4 linked regions of the Homo sapiens genome follow. The protein of the gene in region 2 purifies or fractionates together with the protein of the main gene of each other region. This does not show direct contact. Each region holds a gene or a part of one and is shown on either strand. Other genes may lie near its edges. The genes, in order: MAN1B1, PTPRO, PDIA6 and DNAJC16.

Evidence for each region.
Region 1: the proteins of PTPRO (region 2) and MAN1B1 purify together in Homo sapiens (affinity purification with mass spectrometry, with the first as the bait; 2 studies listed by BioGRID). This does not show direct contact.
Region 3: the proteins of PTPRO (region 2) and PDIA6 purify together in Homo sapiens (affinity purification with mass spectrometry, with the first as the bait; 2 studies listed by BioGRID). This does not show direct contact.
Region 4: the proteins of PTPRO (region 2) and DNAJC16 purify together in Homo sapiens (affinity purification with mass spectrometry, with the first as the bait; 2 studies listed by BioGRID). This does not show direct contact.

The regions. Positions count from the first base shown.
Region 1 is NC_000009.12:137,096,963-137,103,987, reverse strand, and holds part of MAN1B1 (endoplasmic reticulum mannosyl-oligosaccharide 1,2-alpha-mannosidase), read right to left. Parts: intron 6,161-7,025; coding exon 6,051-6,160; intron 4,293-6,050; coding exon 4,107-4,292; intron 2,984-4,106; coding exon 2,835-2,983; intron 2,505-2,834; coding exon 2,316-2,504; intron 2,310-2,315; exon of another isoform or gene 2,232-2,309; coding exon of another isoform or gene 1-2,231. Other genes in the region: uncharacterized protein LOC124902313, read right to left, coding at 1-1,212, 1,249-2,231. UniProt on the Homo sapiens protein: Involved in glycoprotein quality control targeting of misfolded glycoproteins for degradation.
Region 2 is NC_000012.12:15,317,988-15,325,528, forward strand, and holds the start of PTPRO (receptor-type tyrosine-protein phosphatase O isoform a precursor), read left to right. Parts: upstream 1-4,520; 5' UTR 4,521-4,739; coding exon 4,740-4,814; exon of another isoform or gene 4,815-5,862; intron 5,863-7,541.
Region 3 is NC_000002.12:10,782,891-10,788,810, forward strand, and holds the end of PDIA6 (protein disulfide-isomerase A6 isoform d precursor), read right to left. Parts: intron 5,880-5,920; coding exon 5,807-5,879; intron 4,550-5,806; coding exon 4,391-4,549; intron 2,221-4,390; exon of another isoform or gene 2,141-2,220; coding exon 2,044-2,140; exon of another isoform or gene 1,437-2,043; coding exon 1,368-1,436; 3' UTR 501-1,367; downstream 1-500. UniProt on the Homo sapiens protein: May function as a chaperone that inhibits aggregation of misfolded proteins. Negatively regulates the unfolded protein response (UPR) through binding to UPR sensors such as ERN1, which in turn inactivates ERN1 signaling.
Region 4 is NC_000001.11:15,521,944-15,529,867, reverse strand, and holds the start of DNAJC16 (dnaJ homolog subfamily C member 16 isoform 1 precursor), read right to left. Parts: upstream 3,021-7,924; 5' UTR 2,910-3,020; intron 781-2,909; 5' UTR 763-780; coding exon 596-762; intron 1-595. Other genes in the region: CASP9 (caspase-9), read left to right, coding at 5,668-5,799. UniProt on the Homo sapiens protein: Plays an important role in regulating the size of autophagosomes during the formation process.

The sequences.
Region 1 (7,025 bases), on a different chromosome or scaffold from region 2:
CATGCCTGCAACAGCATGAATGTGCAACACCACCGACCTGCACGCCTGCAACAGCATGAATGTGTAACACTACCGACCTGCATGCCTGCAACAGCATGAATGTGTGTAACACCACTGACCTGCACGCCTGCAAGTGTGAATGTGTGTAACACCACCGACCTGCAAGCCTGCAACAGTGTGAATGTGTGTAACACCAACCTGCACACCTGCAACAGTGTGAATGTAACACCACCGACCTGCACGCCTGCAACAGCATGTGTGTAACACCACGGACCTGCACGCCTGCAACAGTGTGAATGTGTGTAACACCACCGACCTGCACGCCTGCAAGTGTGAATGTGTGTAACACCGACCTGCACGCCTGCAACAGCATGAATGTGTGTAACACCACCGACCCGCACGCCTGCAAGTGTGAATGTGTGTAACACCAACCTGCACGCCTGCAACAGCGTGAATGTAACACCACCGGCCTGCACGCCTGCAATAGCGTGAATGTGTGTACCACTGACCTGCACGCCTGCAACAGCGTTGTGTGTAACACCACCGACCTGCATGCCTGCACCAGCGTGAATGTAACACCACCGACCTGCACGCCTGCAACAGCATGAATGTAACACCACTGACCTGCACGTCTGCAACAGCGTGAAAATGTGTAACACCACCGACCTGCACGCCTGCAACAGCATGAATGTACCACCGACCTGCACGCCTGCAACAGCATGTGTGTAACACCGACCTGCACGCCTGCAACACCATGAATGTGTGTAACACCACCGACCTGCACGCCTGCAACAGTGTGAATGTGTGTACCACCGACCTGCACGCCTGCAACAGTGTGAATGTAACACCACCGACCTGCACGCCTGCAACAGCATGTGTGTAACACCACCGACCTGCACGCCTGCAAGTGTGAATGTGTGTAACACCAACCTGCACGCCTGCAACAGTGTGAATGTAACACCACCGACCTGCACGCCTGCAACAGTATGAATGTAAGACCACCGACCTGCACGCCTGCAAAAGCGTGAATGTGTGTAACACCACCGACCTGCATGCCTGCAACAGCGTGAATGTGTGTAACACCACTGACCTGCACGCCTGCAACAGCATGAATGTAACACCACCGACCTGCACGCCTGCAACAGTGTGAATGTGTGTAACACCACCGACCTGCACGCCTGCAACAGCATGAATGTGTGTAACACCACCGACCTGCACGCCTGCAAGTGTGAATGTAACACCACCGACCTGCACGCCTGCAACAGCATGAATGTGTGTAACAGCACCGACCTGCATGTCTGCAACAGTGTGAATGTGTGTAACACCACCGACCTGCACGCCAGCAACAGCGTGAATGTAACACCACCGACCTGCACGCTTGCAACAGCGTGAATGTAACAGCACCGACCTGCACATCTGCAACAGCGTGAATGTGTGTAACACCACCGACCTGCACGCCTGCAACAGCGTGAATGTGTGTAACACTGACCTGCACGCCTGCAACAGAATGAATGTGTGTAACACCACCGACCTGCACGCCTGCAACAGTGTGAATGTAACACCACCAACCTGCACGCCTGCAACAGCGTGTGTAACAGCACTGACCTGCACGTCTGCAACAGCGTGAATGTAACACCACCGACCTGCACGCCTGCAACAGCGTGAATGTGTAACACCACCGACCTGCACGCCTGCAACAGTGAATGTGTGTAACACCACCGACCTATACTCCTGCAACAGCATGAATGTGTGTACCACCACCGACCTGCACACCTGCAACAGCACGTGTAACACCACCGACCTGTACTCCTGCAACAGCAGGAATGTGTGTAACAGCACCGACCTGCACGCCTGCAACAGCGTGAATGTAACACCACCGACCTGCACGCCTGCAACAGCATGTAACACCACCGACCTGTACTCCTGCAACAGCATGTGTGTAACAGCACCAACCTGCACGCCTGCAACAGCATGAATGTGTGTAACACCACCGACCTGTACTCCTGCAACAGCATGTGTGTAACACCACTGACCTGTACGCCTGCAACAGCCCAAATGTGTGTAACACCACCGACCTGCACGCCTGCAACAGTGTGAATGTGTGTAACACCACCGACCTGCACGCCTGCAACAGCGTGAATGTAACACCACCGACCACGCCTGGAAATGGTTAAGGTGGTGCGTTTTGTGTGTTTTATCACAGTAAAAAACCTGAAAACACACATGCACATACACACACACACACAGTACCTGCTGTGATGAGCAAAAGGTAGCTCCAGGGGAGGCGCATCCAGCCAGAAAGCCTGCCCCCTTACCTGAAACTTCTTATCCCCTGTGAGACGGGAGAGCTCCCGGAACTCCAGCTGAATGCTGGTCACCTCGGCCACAGTGCTGTCGGAGGTCCACCGTGGCGGGTGGGCAACTCCAGTACCGATGTTCACATCCGAGTAAGGAATCTTGGATGGTGTTCTGAAGGCAGGCATTAGCCGATTTCCAAAATCCTCCTGGTATATGAGCAGAGTAGAGAACCAACGTTCAGGTCACCCAGAGGCCTCGTCTACACCCTTTCATGCAGTTCAGTGGAGACACTGAAGGCTCTCTGGGGTCAACACAGCAGCAAGGAAACGGGCATCACTCTGCACTGAGTGAATGTCTCTACAAGGCCAGTGGTGATCAAAGTGGCTTCATCAGCTCACGAATATGAGCTCAGAAACAGACTCCAGTGCATTTGAAGAGGAAACAGGAAGACAGTCACGTCCCCACAAGTCCACTAAAGGGGTAACTGCTTGAATGCGAGTCCACCATCTCCCTGCAGGACACCCCAAGACACTTACAGCTTTCCTCAGGAAGAGGCTGTCCCCAGACAGGTGGTAGGCACTCAGGAGCCCCCCCAGGATGCGGATCGTGCTCTCAAACAGGTTGACGTCCACGTCCTTTTCAAAGTGTAACTTCTTCGACACCCACTTCCTGGCTTCCTCAAATTCTATGACATAAAACAGTAAAGGATGCAGAGACAAATGGATGGCTCCAACGTTTTCCTATTATCTATCCATCTTCAAAATACATTTGGCTGGGCGTGGTGGCTCATGCCTGTAATCCCAGCACTTTGGGAGGCTGAGGCAAGTGGATTGCTTGAGCCCAGGAGTTAGAGACCAGCCTGGACAACATGGGAAAACCCCATCTCTACTAAAAACACAAAAATTAGCTGAGTATGGTGGCGCATGCCTGTGGTCCCAACTACTGGGGAGGGTGAGGCATGAGAATAGCTTGAACCCGGGAGGCGAAGGCTGCAGTGAACTGAGATCGTGCCACTGCACTCCAGCCTGGGCCACACCACTAGACTCTGTCTCCAAAAAACCCACGTTTGAAACCAGGAGGCCAAGGTTGCAATGAGCCGAGATTGCGCCATTGCACTCCAGCCCAGGAGACAGTGAAAGACTCCATCTCAAAAACAAAAAAACAAAAACAAAAAACCAAACCCATGTCTGGGGCGTTATCGTTCCCCTGCAGGGCTTCAATATCACCTCCTATCTCAAGGGGGTAAATCTTGAAGTCGTCAACATTTGTTAATAAAACGGAGTCAGCAGTGCAGTTGCTATGGCCACCAATGGGTCACAACCAAAGGCTACGACCCAAAAAAATTACACACGTCGTTTACTGGTGGTCTTCAACCTATTCAAAAAATTAGGCAAATGTTTAAATTATCGCTTAAATAACCGAAGACACATACTCCCAATTCAAAGTGGATGTGCTGGTCTATGAAGGATGCTGCTGAGATCTGGGACCAGCGGGGCCCCACAGTCACTCATCCCACCACCCCCAGCTGCAAGAGAAGCACAGCCTGGGAATGTCCCTTGGACGTCCCCCAAAGAGTCCACACTCAACTCCTGCAGAGGTCTGGGGACAGCGGCCCTGTGTGTGCCTTGGGTGGCTGGACAAGAACAGGAACTGACCACAGCCAACACGTCCACTCCCGCACCCAGGAGAAGGGAAAACCCATGGTCAGATGCAAACAGCAGCTTTCACCCCGTGTGCAACCCACACTCTGCCTCAGCACACGAGGCCCACACGGAGGGCTCAGCCCCTCCCCAGAAAGCACCAGGTACCTTTCCTCAGACCCAAGATCCACATGGTGTCCAGCGCGTCGATCAGTGTGAGACCGAGGCCAAACCACTCACTGAAGGACCTGGACACAGGCTTCAGCTCGTCATGGCCCCATGCAAACTTGCGGTATCCTTTCCATGCATGCAGGAAGACGTCAATCACGCCCTTCTGGCGATAGTTCAGATGCACTAGTAGGGGGGAGAGAGCACAGGCCATGGCGGACGTGGTCCTGGCGTCGGCACAGATGGACACCCTCAGGCAGAGCACTGCTGTGACCCCCATGGGGCAAAGATGACGGTGGGTTTGGGACGACGGGAAGGGCGGTGGTGGGCACAGCAAAGGCCAGGGCCACAGAGGCTGCAGCAGCCCCCAGGGAGAACACAGCCTGCCAAGGGCCTGAGACCTCTGGAGACTGCACAGGATGGCACCTGTCACCCGACCACCTGACTGGGGCCCATGCACCTCCACCTGGCGCCTGGGCAGGCACACCCTCCTTGGGCCTCGGTGGCCTCTGGCCAAAGGGACAAGGGTGGCTGCCCCAAGGGCGCTGGGACAGCACAGTGAGCACAGCCTGTGGAGACGTGGGTGAGTGTGGTGCCAACTCAGAATGTGAAACACGGACGGGTGCAGACCTCGCGATGAACATCCTCGACTCAAACACGCTCCTTCTGCCACGTGGGCTTCAGGTGCTCCACGGGAATCGCACTGTGCACACGCGCTACAGTCCCTTCGTTCCCTTTTTTTAAATTTTTTTGGCTGGGCACGGTGGCTCCCGCCTGTAATCCCAGTACTCTGGGAGGCCGAGGTGGGCAGATCACCTGAGGTCAGAAGTTTGAGACCAGCCTCGCCAACATCGCGAAACCCCGTCTCTACTAAAAATACAAAAATTAGCCAGGTGTGGTGGCGGGTGCCTATAATCCCAGCTACTAGGGAGGCTGAGGCAGGAGACTTGCTTGAACCCAGAAGGCAGACGTTGCAGTGAAGTGACAAAGCAAGACTCTGTCTCAAATATACACATATATATAAATTTCTTTTTTTTTTGTAGAGATGGGGCCTCACTGTGTTGTCCAGGCTGGTCTTGAACTCCTGGACTCAAGAGATCCTTCTACCTCAGCCTCCCAAAGTGCTGGGATTACAAGTGTGAGCCACCACGCCCGGCCAACATTGACTAATGTGTGGATTGACACGTGTGTAACGGCACCAAACCACACGTCCTCTCAGGAAAGGTTCTGAGGCCTCCTTGTGCTCATGGCATGTCTATGCCTCTGCCTCTGCCTCTGCCCTCATTGATGCCGCAGAGATTGCTACACATCCCTCACAGGCCCGGGGCTGGGAGTCCTGGCTCTGGGCTCCCTCCCCACCTCAGAGACACCTGGGGGGCATGATGAGAGCAGGGCTCCAGACTCAGCGACCTGCCATGAGCCCCCACAGACAAGCAAACGACTCTGGGGGTGGCTGTCCTCAGCCCTGCTTTTCAGTCTGGAGAACGGGAGGGTGAGTGGCTTATCGTGTCAGAGGGTGTCATGAGGTTGAAAGAGGCCTCAGGTCATGCACTGAGCTTGGCCGAAGGCCCGCACCTGGGAGGCCCCCAACAAACGGTGCTGAGAATGAAGTGGCCCCCAGAGCTGCCTGGGACTGGCCAGGCCGAGACAGGGGACACAGCACGGGCAGCAGTCTCCAGGGATCCCGTGGGGCAGCCTGGCCCAGACACAAACCTCTCAGACACACCTTCTTCTGCAGCCATGTGCTCAGGGACAGCAGGCCAAGAGCCACATGGTGTCACCAAGGTTGCAGAGCCTGTGAGGACTCAGACAACAGGGGGATGCTGAAGGGCAAGGTGCACACCAGGGCGGGGGCGCCACCCACCATGGCTGAGACGAAGCCTGCACCCATCAGCCACCAGCCCCTGAGCGCCCGGGGAGGAAGGGGTGCAGGTGTGGCCTCACCTGGTGTGCCCTGTGTCCTGGCCGGTGGCAGGGGAGGCTTGGTGGGCACTTCTGCTCTTCTTGAAGGGAGCTCGGTGCCCTGCTCAGGCTCGATCACCGCTCCCCTCCAGCTTCGGGGGAGAAGGAAGGGTGTCAGCTGCCGTCAAACATTTGTGGCTCCATGTTTCCCACCCCCACGCTCCATACCCACGGCCAAGGCACAGCCCTGCACCCAAAGCGGCCCCATCATCCTGAGGTGCAGGCTGCTGAGTGGCAGGAAACACACAGTTCAGTCCTGAGCTCCCGTGCCTGAGAGCCAAGACCACAGCACTGCTCCAGGGTCAAGGCTGGCCTGAGGTCAGAGACCAGAGCTTGGAGAATCGTGAGAAATCCCTCTGCAGAGGCCGGAGGCGGGGGGCCTCTATGGTGGAGGAGTAGAGAATCTTTCATCCAAACAGGAGCACTAGTGACAGTGAGGTGGCCCCAAGATGCCAGGATGGCCACACAGACGGGGGCTGTCCCTACACACGAGACGCATGGCCACTCAAACTCCCCATCGAGTTCTGTCCAATGGCCATCAGGAACAGCTATGAGGTTGTGTAGAGGGTTTGCCGCGCAACCTCCTAACTGTGGCTGGGCCCGAGCGTTCTCTTGGGGCCCTGTGGTGAATCTGTCCCAGGATCAGCAAAAGGCCTCTTACAACCACAGATGGCTTACATGCTGGGAGTACAAACGTGGCACTTTTGACAAGCTGAGGTCAAATCCTCTTTTGCTCTGGAAGTAAAGCGTCCTTGCATTCATGCCAACGCTAACTAGAGCACAGTGGCCCTCAAATTCTCCTCCTGGCCGTGAGGACCCCTCACATGCACATGTCCACGCCTCTCACCACGCGCTTGAGTTCAGGGCCTCTGGGCCCGTTTCTTCGGAGCCCATCTCTCACGGCGGACAGCGCTTGTCTCAGGCCACTCCTGCACAGCAGCCCTCACTGGCCCTGGC
Region 2 (7,541 bases):
TTAGCCAAAAAACCTAGTTATGAAGAAAAGCTAAATTAGTAAATGATAGCAATGTCTGGAACATTCAGAAAAAATATTTTAGAAGTTCATTAGTCAAGGCATTTCATATAAATAAAATATGAGATAAAATCATATAACTTAAGGCTAATGCCTTTTATTAAAGTTTTAGAGCAATTAAATGAAATGCTAGCAACAAACAGAATCCTAGTATATGACTGAATGAAGGTATAATATCTAAAAACACGACAATCTGCATTTCTAATGTAGGGCTGTTTATCCTATAGCCTGTAATTTGTGTCCAGTGATATATATCTGCATATCTGCTCACACTTTCTATGTATGTTTCCTTATTTCTTTAAGTATATAATTTTGTGTTGTAAGACATATCTTGTAATGCAATATTCTTATTTGATTTTCTTTAAGACATGTAAGAGTCAAGTACAAGTAAGATAGGTCTCTTAATAGGAATCTTTTGCGGCGGGAGAGGGGAATATAATGGGAAAAGACTCTCCAAGTAAAAGCAAAAATGACCTTCTTTAGCGTATTTCCACTGTTTTTCAAGTGCAGCAAGAGTAATAAGTCTTGGCAGTTGGAACATGCCATTCACCTGAGGGCTGTCAATCGTTCTCATTTTGAAAGACACAAAACTTATGAATTGTCAACACATCATTTAGGTGAGAAACCAGTGCTCATCAAGAGAAAAAATTAAAACAAATGCTCAAATAAATAGAAAATCAAAATGCTTCCTGGTCATTTTCTTCCAAGAGCTTAATACAGATAATCTACAGTTCATATGCTATAAAAATTGTAACATGTGAGATATGGACAACAAACTGAATGGCTATTACTTTTCCAATGGAATAGAGTCTAGAGAACAATTGCTTGAATTTTTCTTTCTATTCCATATAAAGTAAATTATTTGTCATTGAGCATCCCCCATAAATACAATTATCTAATACTGAAACTGCTGACAGCCTTGTAGGCTATTTCAGTAGTGGAAGCCAGGACTAAACACACTCAACTACATTAGAGGTTGTCCCTGGAGGACAGAATTGAGCTTCATTGGCAAGGGCACCGTAAGAGTTCCATTTGACTCCTCATTAAACCTCTCACAGGGATTCTAGCTGCTTCTCTGTGTCTGCGCTTGCTTTTCTATAGAAGAGATAGATGTGAACCACGTAGGCAAAGATACATTTCTACATATTTAGGAAAAGATCGCTTTTCTTGGTAAAAACTAAGCCTCCTATAGATTTTAAAAAGACCTTCCAGTTTCATGATCATTAACCACCTTTTTATAATTTTCAAAGGAAGTAGAGAGCTTTATTTCAATTTGTGAGAACTTATTTTTCAATGCTTGTTTTATGGCATGTCAGAGATATTATTATTTTTCTGTGTTTATTTTTTCTCCAGGAAAAGTAGCATTAGGGGAAAACAGTTGGTGATAATGATCTCAGCCTTCTTTACCTAACAATGTGGTTGTCATAATGAAATCTGGACCAATATGTAGAAGCAATTGGTGAAACATAAATTACTATATGCACTGTATGTTGCCCCTGGCTGTTTTGTTGATTTGGAGTCTTGAAAATAGCATAATAAGATTTATCATACTTTGGAAGTATTGTATTGAAAAACCAGTCAATAGCTCAAAGAAACACAAAACATGCTCTATGAATTGAAAACCCCACACTGTGGATGACACAGCATTCACATTCTTTATGAGAATCTCTTCTAGGACACTGTTATGGTTTAAGTGCAATAAAAACAAATGAAAGTATTTTATCCAGCAATAGCAATGTAAAATACTTTTCTCTAGAGAGGAAATTTTCTGTGATTATAAAATAATACTTTCAGTCTTCAGCCCATCTAACCACAATGTTACTAATAAAATAACAACAATGCCAATTACTAATGCTTTACTACTTACTGTTTACTGTTATTGTTCCTCCAAAGTGGTCCACATAATATATATATATATATATATATATATACATATATATATATATGCACAAAGACAGAAAGAGCTGAACAAATTGTGATGTATGACTAAGAGAAAAACAGAAAGACGCAGCAGAATATGATTATTTAAAAGGGAGCCTCATTGTGAAAGTTCTTTTAGCATTTACAAGATTAATTTATGATCAGAACTGCTTTAAACGCCCTACGCACATCAGGCAAGGCTATATCCATGTATACACACAGACATATGCATACACACAAATGAATATCATCATACAGACCCATAATTCACAGACACATTTTAAAATTAAATGCTACTCCAAAGAGAAATTGTTGGCATCCTGTGAGTGTGATTGTTGCCCTTGGCCTATATATATCTTATGTTCTAGAGATTAGATCACTTTACAGCCACTTCTGAGGGCGAGTGGGAATAAAATGCTGCTTCAGGAGCGTCAAAATAAAAAGAAAACATATTAAACCAAAGTTCCTATAAGTGCAATCCCAAGGATTAAATGTTCAGATAGCCCGTAAGTCTAACCCAGAGGGAGGGAGGAGCAGTTAACATTTTCTCAAAAGAAAGAAAATGTCCAAACCAATGATGAGTGGACATGAGGGACCTGAAGAGAGCATGTGATGGGAATGTGAAAACAAAAGAAGCTTCTAAAAGAAGACACCAAGGATAATATTCTCACAAAAATTCAGACCATCATTCTATATTTTCATGCATATGAATTTTGGTACATATTTCATGCATATGAAATTTGGTACATATATACATATATGTACCATGCATATACATATGCGTACATATACATATACGTATGCATACACATATGTATCTATGTACACACATACACATATGTGTACACACATATGTACATGCACACACATATGTGTACACATATGTACATGCACACACATGTGTGTACACATATGTACATGTACACATATGTGTACATGTACACATGTGTATATATACATATTCACACTTATGTAAACATATTCAATCTAAAGCTTCCTTAAGACACATACAAACAACAACCAAATGATTAGTGTTTGGCCATTGCTCATGCAGCAAAAGCTGAGTAAACACAGCTCTGGATCCTTTTCTCAGGCCACCACTCCCTAGCTGTGTGACTGACAAAGTCTATGCCTGAACACCTACATTCATGACCAGGGTGGCCTTTCCTGTCTCCTGTTGCCCAAGCATGTCTCAGGTATAAATAAGTTCCAATACTGACAGGGCACAGCAAGGGTAATTTACATGACAATAAGAAATGATTTCTATCTGAACAGTGCATACCAGAGTTGATTTCGACAGACTTATCTTTAAAAAAATACACATAACAAAAAAGGAGACAAGTAGTAGATTGGGGACCCACAGCTTGAAAGTCGTTGCTTGTGATTCTAAAACATCCCAGTAAAATTATTCACAGATAATTGTTTAAAAATATAACTGTACATACCGTTGACACTTGGACAACACAGAGAATCACGTAGTTGAAAATCCACATATAACTTTGAACTCATCAAAACCTTAACTACTAATAGCCTACTCTTGACCGGAAACCTTACTGATAACATAATAAACAGTTGATTAACACACATTTTGTGTTGTATGTATTGTATACTGTATTCTTACAATAAAGTACGCTAGAGAACAGAAAATATTATTAAGAAAACCATAAAGAGGAGAAAATACATTTATATTCATTGAGTGGAAGTGAATTATCATAAAAGTCTTTAACGTCATCCTTTTCAGGCTGAGCAGGCAGAGGAGGAGGAAGAGGGTTTGGTCTTGCTGTCTCAAGGCTGGCAAAGGTGGAAGAAAATCTGCATATAACTGGACCCAACAGTTCAAACCCGTGTTGTTCAAGGGTCATACATGTAAAATACTGTGATTTTTCCCCCTTCTATATTCAGCTTCAGGTGACCCGACACACTTTGGTATCAAAAGAGAATCTGAAATGTACAAGAACTGCGGATTTCAAATGGAAAAGGTGCATAATTGTGCTATTTGTTCCTGGGTGAGTGTGGGACGGAGACGGTGAGAGTGTTGAAATGGGATGGAGATAATGGAAGCAGTGGGGAAGGAGAGAAAATACCCTTCCTATCACACACACTCACACACTCACACTACACACTATTTCTACAGTCACAACTACCCAACTGTTATTGATCCTTTATAACTGCAATTGAGTACAGATGTAGGAAGATTGAGAGGGAACTGGGATCTGGCGCCTGGATTGCTCAAGAGAGGTCAGGGAAACCCCTCAGAACTCCTGAGACCCAGAGATTGAGGGAGGGGTTGAGGCGGAGTCTGCAATGGGGGCTGTCCAGCAGTAGCAAGCAGCGGGCCGATCCTGGTGGAGGGTTGGGAGGCTGCTGTCATTTTATGGGTCGGCAGCCAGAGTGAGAGTGTCCCTGCTGCCAGAGGACTACGGCGGGCTGGGCGCGGGGTCCCCGCCTCTCGCTCACCACACAGACCCCGCGCCTCCTCTGGCAGCCGCGGTGGTGGCGGCGGCAGAGCCTCGCCCACTCCAATCCCCACCCTCTCCATCCTTAGTCATTAAAGAACAGCAGCGCCTGGCACGTTCTTGGAGGACCCCGGGCGCAGAGGAGGAAAGGGAGCAGGCGCAGGGGGACTGGAAAGGCAGCATGCGCTCGCCAGGAGCAACCTCGGCGCCCAGGGTCTGAGGCTGCAGCCCCAGTTCGCCATTGTGAGCCGCCGCCGGGGGAGTCCGCTAGCGCAGCCGTGCCCCCGAGTCCCCGTCCGCGCAGCGATGGGGCACCTGCCCACGGGGATACACGGCGCCCGCCGCCTCCTGCCTCTGCTCTGGCTCTTTGTGCTGTTCAAGGTAGGGGAGCTCCTCCACCCCTTTTTCCCAGCGGTCCGGGCGGCAGCCGCGCTCCGGCGCCCTCGCTCTGCCGTTGGGAGCGGCGCGCCCCAGGGCACGATGGCCCAGCCGCGGGAAGCGCCTGCCGTGCAGCCTGGGCGCACGCTTTGTTGTCCTCGCGTGTGCGTGTTCCTGGTGGTCTTGAGAGGTAGGGGGCGGGGGGAAGAATAAGGGAAGTTTGCTCCCTCCGGCTTTCGCCCTTTGTGCTCTTTTATCGCTGCTGAAATCCACATCAAAGGTGGGCTTGTTGGATCGTGCTTTCTCAGGCAAAATGAGGTCACTTTCTTTTCTGGTTTCCACTGCACCCCAACGCTGCTTAACCTTTCCGCCCTCCCTCGCACAGAATGCTTTGTCTTAATTTTCCTTACTGCTGGAATTATACACTGGAGAGTGGAGGGGGACTGAGCTCCCTGGACACAAATGGACTGCCAGGGCTACGTTAGGGCAGAATTTTCTTTGAATAAGGAGTGTCAGGTAGAGAGCTTGGTAAGGATTCCTCTCCCCAACTCCTATCAACATCTTTACAATTCCTTTTAAAAAGTCTCCAGACTTTCTCCACTATATTTACAGATGATATTACCCCTAGATTTAATGGTGGAAAAATATATAATAATAAACTTTTTCGTATCTTCTTTGGAATGTGCTACCCTGAGGTTTTACTTTGAGAAAAATGAAAAGCAAAGGAGTTGCTTTTGAAAAATCAGTTTGACAACTATACTGTACATAAATTTTTTTGAAGAAATGTCAGCTAGATGTTTTCTTGGACGGCGATGTGAAGTTCTGAAGTGATTGTCTATCACTCATGTCTTCAGTGGATCTACTTTAGTTCTGTTGTTAGTCTTTTCCTCTCTCCGCAAAGCAAACTCAAGAATGTCGACAGGTGACTTGGAGCTATCCTTTCAGGACCACAGTGATACCTTCCCTAGAAATGGATGCCAGGTTAATGGATCCAAAGGTTTTCTTATTATAGAGTCACTTCTTGCTTATATGCACCATTAATTATGAATGCCTAAAAAGAATATAATGGAACAGGACCAATGGATTAAGAACAGCATTACTTTTAAATACTCCATATTTTCATTTATCTTAATGAAAAATATAAAAAAAATTCAGGGAGAAACAGCAACAGAATGCCTAAGTAAGACCTTAAAATATATTTAATATGTTTTAACATTTTTTCTTAAATTATCAATAATCATTAATTTTAAAGTATGGTAAATAATAAGCTCAGTTATATGTTTTTACTGTAGGAGGTTGTTCTTTCATACACATCATAAATGCATTAGACTTATTAGGTTGTCTATTAGTCGTTTTCTAACTATTTATCAAACTGTCACAACTATTTTACCTATGCAATAATTGTCATGAACCAAAAATTAGAAACCAAGTCACTATGCATTTTACGAGCAACAGCTAAGAGTTATATGTATGACATCTGATCCAAACCTAACGTTTAGCACAACTGCAGGTTTTTGCGTGAGTTCTTCATAATGAGATAATTCCAGAAATAAGAGAATGACTTGGTTGGGAGTGGGGGTAAGGTTTTGCAATTAAAATAAAATAAATGTGGCCATTGTTTGACTTAAAACTCGATATTGGAATGAGAAAATGCAGTTAGTGATGGTGTAATGAAAATGTTAGTGATTGTCATAGAGGTCCAGCCTGCTTCACATAATAGGTATATTCCTGAACATTGCAGGTAAATGTAAATTATGGCAAACTGCTTCCATAGTAAATACATTGGCAAAGTTTGCCATTTAAATAATAATTATTGTAGTGGGACACATAATTTTGTAAGAAAAATCATTTTCCTTTATTTTATGTGAATGTAATATTTTTGTCACCTGAATATAAACTATATCAGAGGAAAGAAGAAAAAACTGTATATATTAAATACCTTCTATGTGCTGGTTTTTTAGGCATTTTACATACGTTATTTCATTTAATCCTATTTTGCTGCAGTTGACAAGAGTTGTTCAAAAAAAATGGTAAATTGGGCACACAGTGTAATATCTTACATTTAGAGGATAGTATATTACATGGTGCGTTGGGCACATGGTATAATCTCTTTATAATTTGGAGATATTTTTGAATTAAAGGTCCTGATTAAGTGCCAGTAAAACAGATCTACTCAAGCAGGTTGTGACTGGAGGATGAGAAAAAATTCATTATTAAATACCAAACTGCTAACTGTATCTCAATAATAAAATCCAAAATGTTCCACGTGTGCCGAGTCAGAAATGAAACATTCTCTCAACTCTCCCTTGCCAAAATAATTTCCATAGTTTTCACTATAGTTAATACATTTTTCACTACTCCATATGTGTATCCTTTATATAAGAGTGAAAATTCTGAAGGAAAATAAGACAGAGAAATTCAAGTATGAGGCTTAATTTACAGCTTTACATTTTCCACAACTCAAAAATAAGCAGCTGGATATCAGTGGTGGAAAAGTAGGAAAGTTTGAATGTGTATGAATGGCTATAATCAGTTCCATTGAGGGAGACTAAATGTGACTGGCCAAGAAGGTCTTTGTGCCATCGTTCCTTATCCATGGAGCAGTGATGAGCACATATAATCGGGCATCTCAGACTGTCTAAATCATTCACTGCACATTATGAAGCTAATATCTGCATAATTTATCTTGCCTAAACACAATGTTGGTTATGAAAATTTTTATTTTTATAT
Region 3 (5,920 bases), on a different chromosome or scaffold from region 2:
TAATCCCAGCTACTTGGGAGTCTGAGGCAGGCAGTGAGCTGAGTCCAGCCTGGGTGACAGAAACTGTCTCAAAAACAAAACAAAGCAAAACTATCTGTCAGCCTGTTATGAAAATCTACATGTCATACACATTAAAGCACAGCAAGGAGAGGGTTGGAGGGGTGGACCACAGCTACGCAGAGCAGAACGTACGCTCAGTGCCTGGCGAGCTTCCTCAAAACTAAAAGGATAAGACAGGAAACTAGTTTATGCACTTAGAGCATTACCATGTCTTCTTTTGTAGGCATCTGTGGAGATCCCGGGACTGCAACTCAATAACCAAGACTATTTTCCTTATGTCTACTTCCATATTGACCTTAGTCTTCTTGACTAGAAAGGCCAGCTGGCACCTCTGTCTCATGTTCGTGCAGATTATTACAGACACCTCTTTCCTTTAGCCAGAGAATGGTTCAAATGTCTTACAGAACTAAGATCTTTTTCAGAGAAATTGCTCACAAAAGTTAGTGACAGTTGTATTTATTTTTTTAAGTTACAATAAAATGCTCTCAAGTCCTTTGAATGTTCCAACAAATTCAAAACTTCATTTTCTGAATGTTTTACATAAATGCGAACTACCTGTTCGCATTGGTAACCTGCTGCTGTATTTCATGTCTTAACGGCTATTTTGAGGTTCATTAACAACATAGAAAGCCTTGAACTGTATAACCAGCTAGATTCCTTAATAATTAGTCACTAGAGACAGCCCAAAGACAAATATTGGGCAGGAAATCAGTTCTCACTGAGCCCGGTTTCCATGTAAAATCTCTGTTGTGGTGGGCATAGGTGGCACCATCTAAAGAAAAGAGGTCTTGTTTTTTGTTTAAAAAAGTTTGTGGGGAGGAAAGACATCTGTGTATCACTTCAAAATATTGATTTACTGCTAAACATCACTCTGAATTTATGATGTGGATACTAACTTCATACATTTATCGGCATTGTCCAAAATATTTTATTCTTTAATGGAAAAAGCCATTAATATTCAAATGAAGGGATCACATTAAAAAAAACCCATACATAAGAAACAGCCTCCAAGAACATTCAAGCAGCAGTCAGAGAGAAAAATGTTTCGACAGCCAAGTTTTCTTCAAAATATTATGTGACAGAATACGACTCAATTCACCGGCTACAACAATTCATAGAATTTTTCAATGTTTTCTTGAGATGCAAAAGTTCACTGTTGCAGTGTTTTCAAATGACCAATCAAGTACTACTTCTTGGTTAAAAGGCCACTGGTAGAGTCATCTGAGTGTAGAGAATGTCCCTTCACTGCTGGAAAAATCCACTGGCTCCCAAGAAAAGAAAATGGTCTGAAGCCTCTGTTGTGGCTCTCACAACTCATCTTTCCCTAAGTCATCAAGCTCCACATCACTGAGGTCAATGTCATCCTCCACGGGAAGCTGGGAGACGACAGAAAGCCACTGTTAGATCTGCAGAAGGGGACACCCTGGAAGGTCAACATCTCATTTTATGGAAGAGCGACTCTCTGGAGCTACTCCTGCTACAATCCAGGTTCTCCTCAGTCTGACTCCTACCCTGACCTTCGTACCTATGATTATACGGATGGAAAAGCTCAGAACTCAGGTGAAACATTTCAACATCACATCACTCACCATTTTAACACTGGAAGCCACTTGAACGTGTCCTTTTGAGGAGGGTGGGACACAACAGTACAGAAATAAGTGCTAATTTCAAAGCTATCATTTTCTATTTTTCTAAGATAAAGTAAATGAATTCCAGGTTAAATGTTCACTTTAAGGTAATAATCAGGAAAGCAACCTTACTACTGAAATGTATCTTGGCTGTCAAGAGTATCAAATGCCATGCAGCACTTAAACTTGTGATAAGGAAGATGAAGGGTCTTCAGAGAAGAACCTCTTAAAAGGCCCACGGGTGCACCAGGGCTGAGGTCTGATGGGAAGGACTTGACTCCAGGTGCAGAGATGCACAGGCTCAAGAGAGTAAACCAGGACTGCTGCCCGCACAGCTTCCCTCCCGGGCACTCACCTCGCCATCCCTGCCGTCCCAAGGCTCTCTCTCAACGATGGTAGGGAAAGCCCCGCCTCCTACAGGTGCCGTGGAGCCACGCCCAAAAGAGAGCTCCCTTAGGGAAAAATGACCAAAACACACACACACATTTACAATGGACTGCTGGTGCAGAAGAATAAACAACTTTAAAAATAACAGTCTGCCTACTTTGTTTATGCAGAGGCATTTCTTCTCTCTTGCTGCACTACATTCCTCAGAAACACCTTGAGGACATTATCTTTTTAATCACGGACAACATTACAACCAGATTCAACATTCCCAACTAAGCCCCCTGCATCAGATAAAGTCAGTTGCTATCAGTAAGCTTTTAAAAATAGCAGAGCATTTGCTGAAATACAAATTAAATACATAAATAATTATCAAAGTTGATCTAGAACATGGGCTGCCTGCGAGCTTTCTAAGACTGCTGTGAACCTGTACAGAGGGAGCATATCAGAAGTGAGGCGACTGGTTCCAGTGCGCTGGCAGAGAGCGGGGTGCGTATGTGCATAAACATCAGTACTTGAAACATACCAGACCTGGTGTAATCTGGCTGTTGGGAAACCAGAGCCAGAAATACTGTGGGCACAAATATTTAGAGTTCACCAAACAACTCATAGAATAATAGAGCTAGACTAACAATCTATGGCACCAATGGGCTAGAATAAGCAAACCTATTATTAGAAAAAAAAATTACAGGAGATATATTCACATTCTGACTTCATGATTTAATAAATACTACTCTATGACAATCACAAACTTAAGCAGTCCACAAACTTCTTTTTCTTTGAGACCAAGTCACACTCTTTTGCCCAGGCTGGAGTGCAGTGGTGTGATCTCAGCTCACTGCAACGTCCACCTCCTGGGTGTGCCTCAGCCTCCCTAGTAGCTAGGACTGCAGGCCTACAACACCACACCTGGCCTATTTTTTGTATTTTTAGTAGACATAAGGTCTCACCGTGGTGGCCAGCCTGGTCTCGAACTCCTGGCCTCAAGTGATCCGCCTGCCTCAGACTCCCAAAGTGTTGGAATTACAGGCGTGAGCCACCGCACCCAGCCCCACAAACTTAATGAAAACACCCCCTTGGCCAGGCGTGGTGGCTCACACCTGTAATCCCAGCATTTTGGGAGGCTGAGGTGGGTGGATCACTTGAGGTCAGGGGTTTGAGACCCGCCTGGCCAACCTGGTGAAAACCCATCTCTACTAAAAATACAAAAATTAGCTGGGCGTGGTGGCAGGCGCCTGTAATCCCAGCTACTCAGGAGGCTGAGGCAGGAGAATCACTTGAACCCGGGAGGTGGAGGTTGCAGTGAGCCGAGATCGTGCCAGCCCGGACGACACAGCAAGACTCTGTCTCGGGGGTGGGGGGGAAAGAAAACACCCATTAACCATATTAACCAACTACAATGAGAGAGAGCTGGGAGGGAAGGAGCCACAGTCTGCCCCCCGCCGGCAGAGGCTGAAGCAGCTGATCTCACAGGGCTTCCTCCATGCCTCCCACTTCACTACTCAAGGCAGAGCTGTGACTGAGGCACCTGACTTTGGAGCCCCTACTCTCCACACAGCACACACACACGTCTCCACACAGCACACAAACTTCTGTGTCAAGTAGGAAGACTGGCAGCAAGAGCACTGCAGGCTTTCATGTACTGTTCTTCCTATTCATTATTCAACACAAGCCTCTCAACTACCTTTTGTGTGCTGAACATCTCTTATACAGCAGCTAAGAAATGAACGCGGAAGAAAGCAAGAATGGGAAATAAAACCTCTTTAGGTCAATGCCCTGTATTGCCTAAAAGATGATTAGGTGAGCTGAATAGCAGAGCAGAGTAGACAGCTCTGTATATTGGTTTTAGAACCTATCATGTTGTTTGCACATTGTTGGAGTAACTTAAGTACGCCCATTTTCAAATAAATAACTACATTCCAAAGCCAAGTGCCCAGAAATGGAAACCACATTTCCCCAAGGTCAAGATTACAATGCATATGAGGGTGAGGATGGACAGACAGGGCTGCCTCTAGCCCATATGAGACCTTTATGAGAATGAGAAAGAGCCCAGGGCCAGATGCACAGAATGGCACACAGGGCGGCCCGAGGGTAGCAATGCTTTCTCCTCATCCCGCAAGCAGAGTATTCCATGGAAAAAAGAACGAACAGGGAGACAATTTAAAAACTCTAATGTATAAACATTCAATTCTCTGGAATTAGTTTGCATTTTAAATTCCATTTATTACCTGGCTTATATATACCTAGTTCCAAATATAAACCTACAACAGAACCAAACAAACAGACAAAACAACAAACAACCTAAGAAAACAAATTACCTGAGAAACTCGTTGATGCCTTGCTCACTGAAGGAGCCTTTTAGCAGAGCAAATTTCATCTTGCGTGCATTGATGGCGGCCATGGCGGGGTACCCAAACCCTCCAATCCCCAACGCGGTCTCAAGTTCAGACTGGGCTCCAGCTTCTGTCCACAGCCACCTAGAAAACCAGACTGGTTTTTAGGGCAAATATGTCTTTTAAATTGCTTACGATCTAACTAGAAGATCTTAGAGAACAAAAGATCACGCTTCAGATATTTCGTAGAATGACAAATAAAAACAAAAGATGAGTTTCTATATGGATTTTCCCTTTTTACCTGAAATCCCACCAATATCATTTGGGTTATTAAGCATGTTCTCGCGTTCTGTAGGCATCTAATAAACATTTGCTGGACTAATGGAGGAGGAGCAAGGTCATCGAGAGAGGGACAACAGGGGGCGCTAGGTACCTGGGGAAAGCAATGGATACTGAGGACAAGAAGCAAAAAGATAAATAGGAAGGAGGCTGGGCACGGTGGCTCACGCCTGTGATCCCAGCACTTTGGGAGGCCAAGATAGGTGGATCACCTGAGGTCAGGAGTTCGAGACCAGCCTGACCAATATGGTGCAAACCCCATCTCTACTAAAATCACAAAAATTAGCCGGGCATGGTGGCGTGCGCCTGTAGTCCCAGCTACGCAGGAGGCTAAGGCAGGAGGATCTTTTGAACCCGGGAGGCGGAGGTTGCAGTAAGCCGAGATTGTGCCACTGCACTCCACCCTGGGCAAGAGAGTGAGACTCTGTCTCAAAAAAAAAAAAAAAGGATAAAATAGGAAAGAGATACACTGTTTTGAAAATGTGCCTAGATCCAGTCCTTAACTCAGAAGAGGAGAAGGAAACAATTCTATTTCCCCTTTCTCACCCAGCCTTCAAGTTCACAGTAGAATTCAGGTGCACTACTCCTTATGTGTCTGCCTGCTAACCTGGCACTCCAATCACCATGTAAAACATGATTCCTATGAGAAAAATGCATGCTGTGCTGACAGCCCTTCATTCCTTCTTTTCCTCCCATGATAAAGTTTTCACATCCTGAATAAAAACATATAGCAGAGCAGGCCGGGTGCGGTGGCTTACACCTGTAATCCCAGGACTTTGGGAGGTGGAGGCAGGTGGATCACTTGAGGTCAGGAGTTTTGAGACCAGCCTAGACAACATGGTGAAACCCTGACCCTACTAAAAATACAAAAATTAGCTGGGTGTGGTGGCGGGCGCCTATAATCCCAGCTACTTGGGAGGCTGAGGCAGGAGGGAAAAAAAAAAAAAACATATAGCAGAGCAAACATAGAACACAGCTTACAAAAACACGGGGGAACCACTCTCAAGAAAGCCTATAATCAGCTGTTCAGATGACACTCAGACAGTAAGCTCAGTAACTTACCCCCACATTTTCTTTTTGTATTTGTCTGCCAACTTCAGAAGAACTTCCAGATAAGAATTTCTGCCTGCAGCTCCTGATTTAAATAGACAAAGTTTTTTAAAGGTAAAGATAAAG
Region 4 (7,924 bases), on a different chromosome or scaffold from region 2:
ATAGATTATATGCAAATACTATGCTATTTTATATAGGGACTTGAGCATCCAATGACTTTGGTATTTCTGGGGATCCTGGAACCAAGACCTCATGGATATCAAGAGACAACTATCCTTGGTTTCTGAATTTTTTTTTTTGGAGGCAAAAGGCTATTACTCTTAACTTTTTTTCAAAGTGTAGAAATTAATAATTTAGAGAATAGGGTTGTATAGTGTTCCTGTTTAGCAATTACACTCATAAAGTTACTTTATGAATAATGTATCATGGGAAGGGTAGCATATCCATTATTGACTATATATACATTTTTTTAAAATTAAAACTTGTTACTTTAACATTAAATATGCTAACAGTATCTAAGGCAATTCTTTAAGCCAAAGTATTCCTAAAAGGGAGTTTCAGAGTAAACATAGGCTTTGGATCTTATCGCTAACAATTATAGAACATGAACATTAGCTCTCCTGCGTAAAATATTTTAGACAGATATATATATTGAACATAGAAACAGAGACAAATAAAAGCTAGTCATAATTTAGACTTCATCCCTGCTAAGACTGTTTAGCTTATGTTAAACCTCTATTTCTTTGTTTCACCTACCATTCCCGGGCGAGCTTCTTATAAGCCTTTTTAATATCAGCCTGACTGGCTGTTCGGCTGACCCCTAGGACTCTGTATGGGTCAAAATCCAACGCAGACAGAATTTGCAGGATCAGAACCAGAACTATCAAGAACTGCCAGGAAATGCTCAACTTTCTCACTTCCATTTCTCTTCCTTTCCAGAGCTGAAATGATTGAAGAGGCAATGAGTTTCAGTGGCAGAAACCTGGACAGTCTTGCTTTTTAGGTAAAGGTATAAGATATATAGATGAAAAACAAAACCAACAAAAGGTATTTTGCAGGAAAAGTGTCAAGCTGTTGAACTGTATCTTAAAATAAAAATCTCGCTACTGCTTTTGAATATCACAAATGAGAACTATTACAGATGAAAAGATGAGTAATAAGAATAGCAACTCTCCAGAACACTTTGACTAGAAAAGCTTTAGAAATGAATGAAAATGAATGGGATGCAGAAATAATACATAAATGAGAGAAAACCTAAATAGGATAATCAGGACGACTACCTCTCAAATACATGATTTCATTTATTCTGATAAGAATAAATAAAATAAATGGTTTAAGAATACTTCATTGAGTACATGTTAAACAAACTCATGAAACTGTAAGATTTACCATGTACAAAACTACAAAATGAGATAGTTGTGGCATTCTTGGGCATTAAATAAGTACAAACATGGACGTGAAACACTCTCAAAAAACTGTGTAGTTAAGACGCAGTATGCCTCAATTCTATTCTTTCTCACCACACCATTCAAACAAGAAAATGAGAAGCTGCTCTTTAATCATTAGTAATATGGTGTTTTTTTGTTTTTTTTTTTTGAGACGGAGTTTCACTCGTTGCCCAGGCTGGAGTGCAATGATGGGATCTCAGCTCACTGCAACCTCCCCCTCCCAGGTTCAAGCAAGTCTCCTGTCTCAGCCTCCCCAGTAGCTGGGATTACAGGCATGCGCCACCCTGCCTAGCTAATTTTTTGTATTTTTAGTAGAGACAGGGTTTCACCATGTTGGCCAGGCTGGTTTTGAACTCCTGACCTCAGGTGATCCACCCGCCTCGGCCTCCCAAAGTGTTGGGATTACAGGCGTGAGCCATCGCGCCGGCCAATATGGTCATTATTAATGGAAACCTCAGATGAGAAAAAGCGGCAAGAAAAAATTTAGTTTTACATGTGAAGAAGAATTAACGGCAAAGACCAAATAGCAGGCGTGGTCTTTAAAAGTTTCAAGCTCCATCTCTGGTGAGTACAGTGACTTAATTCATTGTGAATTTTGGAAATAATCCTGGCTGGTTAATGAACAGGGTAGTGCTGGAACTGCAGATATTTATACTCCACAATTATGATTGCTGTTATACCCTACAATGTTTTTTTTCAAGGAACACATTTATCTTGATTTCTCACAAGTTAATACAGTTTTAAGGTTCAAGTGTCTTCTGTGACACCTTACTGAAGAAGGGCAAAGCTATAACAGTGGTGGATTTCCGTAAGTGCAAGTTTAATGCCGCCTGGGAGTCCTCACAAAATTGACTAATCTGATGACCAACGTTTAAAATTGCATACGTGCTGAATAAAATCCTAAAACAAACCAGTTTCTTCTTTGTTAAGGCAACCTATTATATCCTAGAAAACACGTGAAGGCAATGTAGCTACTGGTTAAGCATATGGGTTGAAGACTAGGATCTATTCTCCACTACTTTATTACCTTGGGCAAATTATTTAAACTTACTAAGCATCAGCGTCCTTATTCATAAAATGGGAATGAATACTACCACCTTGAAGGATCATCATGTGGGGACTAAATGCATGTAAAGGGTTTACTGAGCCCAGAGTCAACAGTCAACAAATGGTCGTTAGTGCTATTATTTCTACCATGCAGTACGATCGCTGCCTTATTTAACCATGTCAGTTCCTTCCAGCTAGAGGGCCGAAGTGGCGGTGGTCTGGGAAGTTCTTTAGCTGACATGCGAGATAGACGGCGCCGACCTCGGAGCAGCAAACACCTGCCCAACAGGTAGGCTGCCAGCTCTCTGGGCAGCATATCCAGGACCAGGAAGAAGCTCCCAGAGACAAGCTCCAGGTCTAAGCCCCGCCTCGCGCTCCTGCCGGAGGTCGCAACCCTGCAGGAGACAGCCCCCTCCCCCGCCGCCCTCCGAGAGCCCAGGGCCCGGCCCTGTTGGCTCCCGGCTCCCCCCGGGGCCAGCAGTGACTGGAAACGAGAAGGAACTGAGGGGAAATCCCTGAGTCGGCCTGGCCCCGCCGCGTCCGCGGTTCCGCGCGTCACGCCGGGAAGGAGTTACCGGGAAAGTACACCGGCCCAACCGGCTGCAGCTCCGTGCTCCAGTTAGTTCGCCGGGCCGGGAGCTTCCCGTCCACACCAGCGCTCGCCTGGGCCTGGGGAGGGGAAAGAGGAGGGGACAAGCCCGAGGGGAGTCACGTGACGCTTAAAGGTCTATCGCACTGAAGGCGAGGACCGAACAGGTCGAGGGCGTCTACTGGGCGAATCTATTTTGACCCTTGCCACTCGCCGTCTAGGCGTGGACCTGGGGTGGTTGCTATAGAAACGAGGCGCGCTCTTTGGTTGCAGCCAAAAGGCTGATCGTGACCAAAGAGGCCAAAACGTGCCTCCTAGCGAGGCGAAGTCGCTATGCATGATGGGATACCAGAAGGACCTCCTCGATCCAGGAAGGTGTTTCCGCTCCTACCGGGAGATGGCCCTCGTCTAGCAACAGTTGCTAGGATGGGGACGCACTCTCTGGTCCCTATTCTCTTTAACCCTATTCGTAGAACCTTAGAGCGTCAGATTGGAAGTGACCTTAGGGATTCTTTAACTCTCCAACTCCTGCAATATTGATAGGGAGACCGAGGTCCAGAGAGGGGCAGAGATTTGCCCAAGGCCTAGAATCCAGCATTCCTTTTATTTTTGTTTACTTATCTTTTTTTTTTTTGAGAGAATCCAGGACTTTTAATCCCGTTTACCGAAAACCGAGCTCCACCCAAGAATGTACCAGTCTGTGCCTTAAGCACGGGGAAAGGGCGGTGGGGGTGGAGAGAGGGATAAGGCACAGGTAAGTGAAGGAAACTTTCTTTGAGCCAATGAGATAGATCCCTTGCGGATATAAAGAGCTTTCATATCTCCCTGTCTTGTTTTTATTTTTTTCTCTTTGCATTTATCACTATCTAACATAGTATGTCTTATTTATTGATATAGTTTATCACCTGATCCTTCCACTGGAATGTAAACTCTAAAAGCAGGGATTTTGTTTTGTTCACCTTCATGTTCTTAGTGTTTGACTACAGGCTCAATAAATATTCGTAGAAGTGAACGAATGGGGCTGAGGTTTTGGTGCTCAAGAGATTATATTCTAAGGTGGATTCTTAAGAGTGTGGCTTACAGAGTCAGGTTCGGGTTTCAATCCTGCCTGCCTCGGCCACTTAGTACCCAAGTGACCTTAAACATTCGTTTCCCTGAACCCTAGGGTCTACATCTGTAAAACCGGCGGGGGGTGGGAATACTTTCCTGGCAGGATTGTAGTTAAGGATAAGTGAAATAAGCATGAAAAGTGGCTAGCACGATGCCTGGGACTTAGCAAATGCTCAGTAAACAGAAACGATTATTTTTGAAATGTGAAAATGAACCGTTCAGAACGATGGGAGTTTACAGGACTAGATTTCTGCCGTTTTTTTTTTTTTCTGTGTGGGAGGTGTTAGGGTGGGAGGGAGGGAAGAGGGAATGGAAGACTGTGTAAGGTGGGCTTGGTTGGATCAGACACTCGAGTTTGGAACAGTCAACTGCGATCTGGGCACAAGGGCGGTGAGGGGAGCTTATGGTTTTACTTGGGGTGGAGGAGGGGGCTAAGGGGAAGCCATGCCCCGGAGGAGGTTGAATGGGCGGGACAGATCACGGCTCCACTCATGGTTTCCCTCTTGCTGGAAGTGTGACGACTCCCTCCGGATCTCTGTAAAAGCGGGGCTATAGTGAATTCTGGCGAAGGGCCCGCGGTGGACCAGGAACTGGTGCCAGAATTGCAAAAGGGCACCTGCGCCCGGAGTGGGGAGGTGATGCGGGGGCGGGGCGGGGCCCTGGGGGCGGGGCGAGTCGCGGAGGTGCCGCCTTGGGGCGGGGCGGTGACAGAAGGATGGATCCTGGGGGTGAGGATTGACTTTGGGGGCGGGGCGAGAGTGCGAACTGGAGTCTGAGGCTGAGCGGTGACGCAAGGACGATTCTGAGGGTGGAGCGAGGGGAGGGGATTGGCTCTTGGAGGCGGGGCGGTGGCACGAGGCTAGCCCTTGGGGGCGGGGCGGTGGCGCAAGATTGACCTTGGGGGCGGGGTGGGGGCGTGGGTTGAATCCTGGGGGCGGGGCGGTGGCGCGGAATGGATTCTGGGGTCGGCGCGAGGCGCTGAGGTGCGTCCTGAGGGCGGGGCGATGACGCAGAGCGAATCCTGGGGGCGGGGCGAGACCTTCTAGATGCGTCCCGGGGAGTGGGCGGTGACGCGGTGGCAGGTTCTGGGGACAGGCGGTGACCCCAGAATTGACCCTGGGGACAGGGCGAGGCGCGGAGGCGTCCTGAAGGCGAGGCGGTGACGCAAGAGCGAATCCTTGGGGCGGGGCGAGGCGTTGGAGATGCGTCCTGCGGGCGGGACGGTAACGCGGGGGCGGGGCGGTGACGTGAGGTCAGTGCGGGGATACGGGGCGGGTTCTGGGGCGGGGACGCAGTGGTGGATTCTGGAGCGGGGCGGTGACGTGGGGCGGGTTCTGGGGCGGGGCGGTGACGCGGAGCGTGTTCTGGGGCGGCGCGGTGATGGGAGGCTTGGCCCTGGGGGCGGGGCGAGGCGCAGAGGTGCGTCCTGAGGGCGGGGCGGTGACGCAAGAGCGACTCCTGGGGGCGGGGCGAGGCCTTGGAGATGCGTCCGGAGGCGGTGGGGAGCGAAGACTGACCCGGGGCCGTGACGCGGGGGCAGGCCCTGGGGCGGGGGCGGGTCCTGGGGACTGGGGCGGGCGGCCGAGGCCCGGAAGCGGACTGAGGCGGCCTGGAGTCTTAGTTGGCTACTCGCCATGGACGAAGCGGATCGGCGGCTCCTGCGGCGGTGCCGGCTGCGGCTGGTGGAAGAGCTGCAGGTGGACCAGCTCTGGGACGCCCTGCTGAGCCGCGAGCTGTTCAGGCCCCATATGATCGAGGACATCCAGGTGCGCCCCCGGCCCCCTGTCCCCGCGCTGCACGGCCGGGTCCCCACGCCCCTCGAGGAGGCGTTGTGCGGGAGCCTAGCCTTCCCTGTGGCTTCAAACCCCTCAGCGGAGCCAAAGAATCCCAAACACCTCTTAGTCGGGTGTTCGCTAAAGCGATTCCATGCCATACTCAGTCAGCGTACACTGTTAGTGCTTGTGTTTCTTGTGTAAAGGAAAAATGTGAGACACATCTTGAGAACTTTGAATAAGAAACAATTCATGAATTGGAGAACATCAGACTGAAAGAGCTTTAGTGTTGCAATGACAAAACGTCAGAGGCAAGTATTTATTGGGAAAATGTGGAAGCAAAATAAAGAAATTATTTGATTGGTTTGCAGTTACAAAATTGCCTTTTTTTTTTAAGGTCTGTTAATTGACTGCTTTTGGCTGGTCTTAAGTTTTATTTCTCTCTAACATAAGCATTTATCAGATATGACCCAAGTTAAATTTTGCTTATGTTTGCAGTTTAAGCAAGATTTAGGTCACTTAGGATACCTGATTGGTTTTGTCTGCTCAGGAATTCTTCATGGTTGGTCTCCATTTTAATTTACGTTAATACTTGCGAGGAAGGAGGCGTGTGCGTTTTTACTTTTCTAGCATAGAGGTTTCGGGAACCCACTTTGGCATCAGGCTGCCTGGCAGCGTGTTCTTGGGCCAGTCACTTACCCTCTTTGAGCCACAGTTTCTGGGCTGTGAAATGGGAATAAGAATAATACTGTCATAAGGACTAAATGAAATAACGGATGTGAAACTGTAGTGCTAGGCACAGAGCGGGGGATCAGCGTACCCTGCCCTCTTTGGCCAGCCCCTTCTGTGTTCAGTTTATGTTTTGTTAAGAGGTTTTGGAAATGAGGGGACCTGATGCAGAATGGAGAATAATGAAGTCAAACATTTGAGGTTTTGTTTAAAAGCACTTTCCCATCTTTGTCTCATTTGACCCTCATCACAGGCCTGTGAGGATGCAGGAGATATTTCCTACCATGAGGTGCAGTAGGTGTGAGTGGCTGGCTGGATATCCCTGGCCAGTGCCCTGGCCCAGGGAAAGAGTCTTTAAATAATTGAGTATCATATGAGTAATTATTCATTAATAATAAAATAAGTTTTGTGCCTTCTGTGTGGCCCCTACTGGGGAACAGTAATGGTTTGAGGCCACAGTCCTTGCCTTCAGGAATGTTCACGGGGATCACAAACTCAAATGCCCATGGAGGACCAATGGATGGGCGTCATAGTGGATAGCCTTTGCACTGCCCTCCGTCTCCAGCTGAGTATGGCCATATCAACAAATGGCCCAGTATTGCCACATCTTACACTTATTTTGAGGCAGGGTCTCACTCTTGCCCAGCCTGGAGTGCAGGGATGAGATCATGGCTCACTGCGACCTTGACCTCCTGGGCTTAAGTGGTCTTCCTGCCTCAGCCTTTAGAGCAGCTGGGACTTTAGGCACATGCCACCATGCCTGGCTAATTAAAAAAAATTTTTTTTTTGTACAGATAGGAGTCTTGCTATGTTGCCTAGATGAGTCTCAAACTCTTGGCCTCAAGTGATTCTCCTGCCTCAGTGTTGGGATTACAGGTGTGAGCCACTGTACCCGGCCCAGCTTTCACATCTTAAAAAAGAAGCTGAAAATCTTGATTCCTCTGTCAAATTCCCTGGCTTAAAATGTTAGCAACAAATTCAGAAATTTTTTAAGAACCTTGTGGGAACCACAGGTTGCCATTTTGCCATTCAGTATGGCTGAAAAACAGGCAGGTTTTGGAACCAGTTGGATCTGGGCTCTCATCCTGGCCTTGTTACATATTAGCAAGTTGTAAAAAACCACAACCAATGAGCCAAACAAACAGAAAAACCCTATGACTCAGTTTCCCTGAAATTTTTTACCCTAAAAAGTTGGGAAGTTCTAATTTAACTCTATAAAGTTATTGAGGGAGAAAAAGATGAAACAATGCATTTAACACAGTGTTGACCTCCTGGAGTGTTCAGCAAATGTGGAGAGAAACCTAAACACCACCATCTATTTGCATGTAGCCAACTGTTCTGCTAGTGAGACTTACCTTCTCAGTGGCACTGTAGGTCTGTGCTGTTCCCA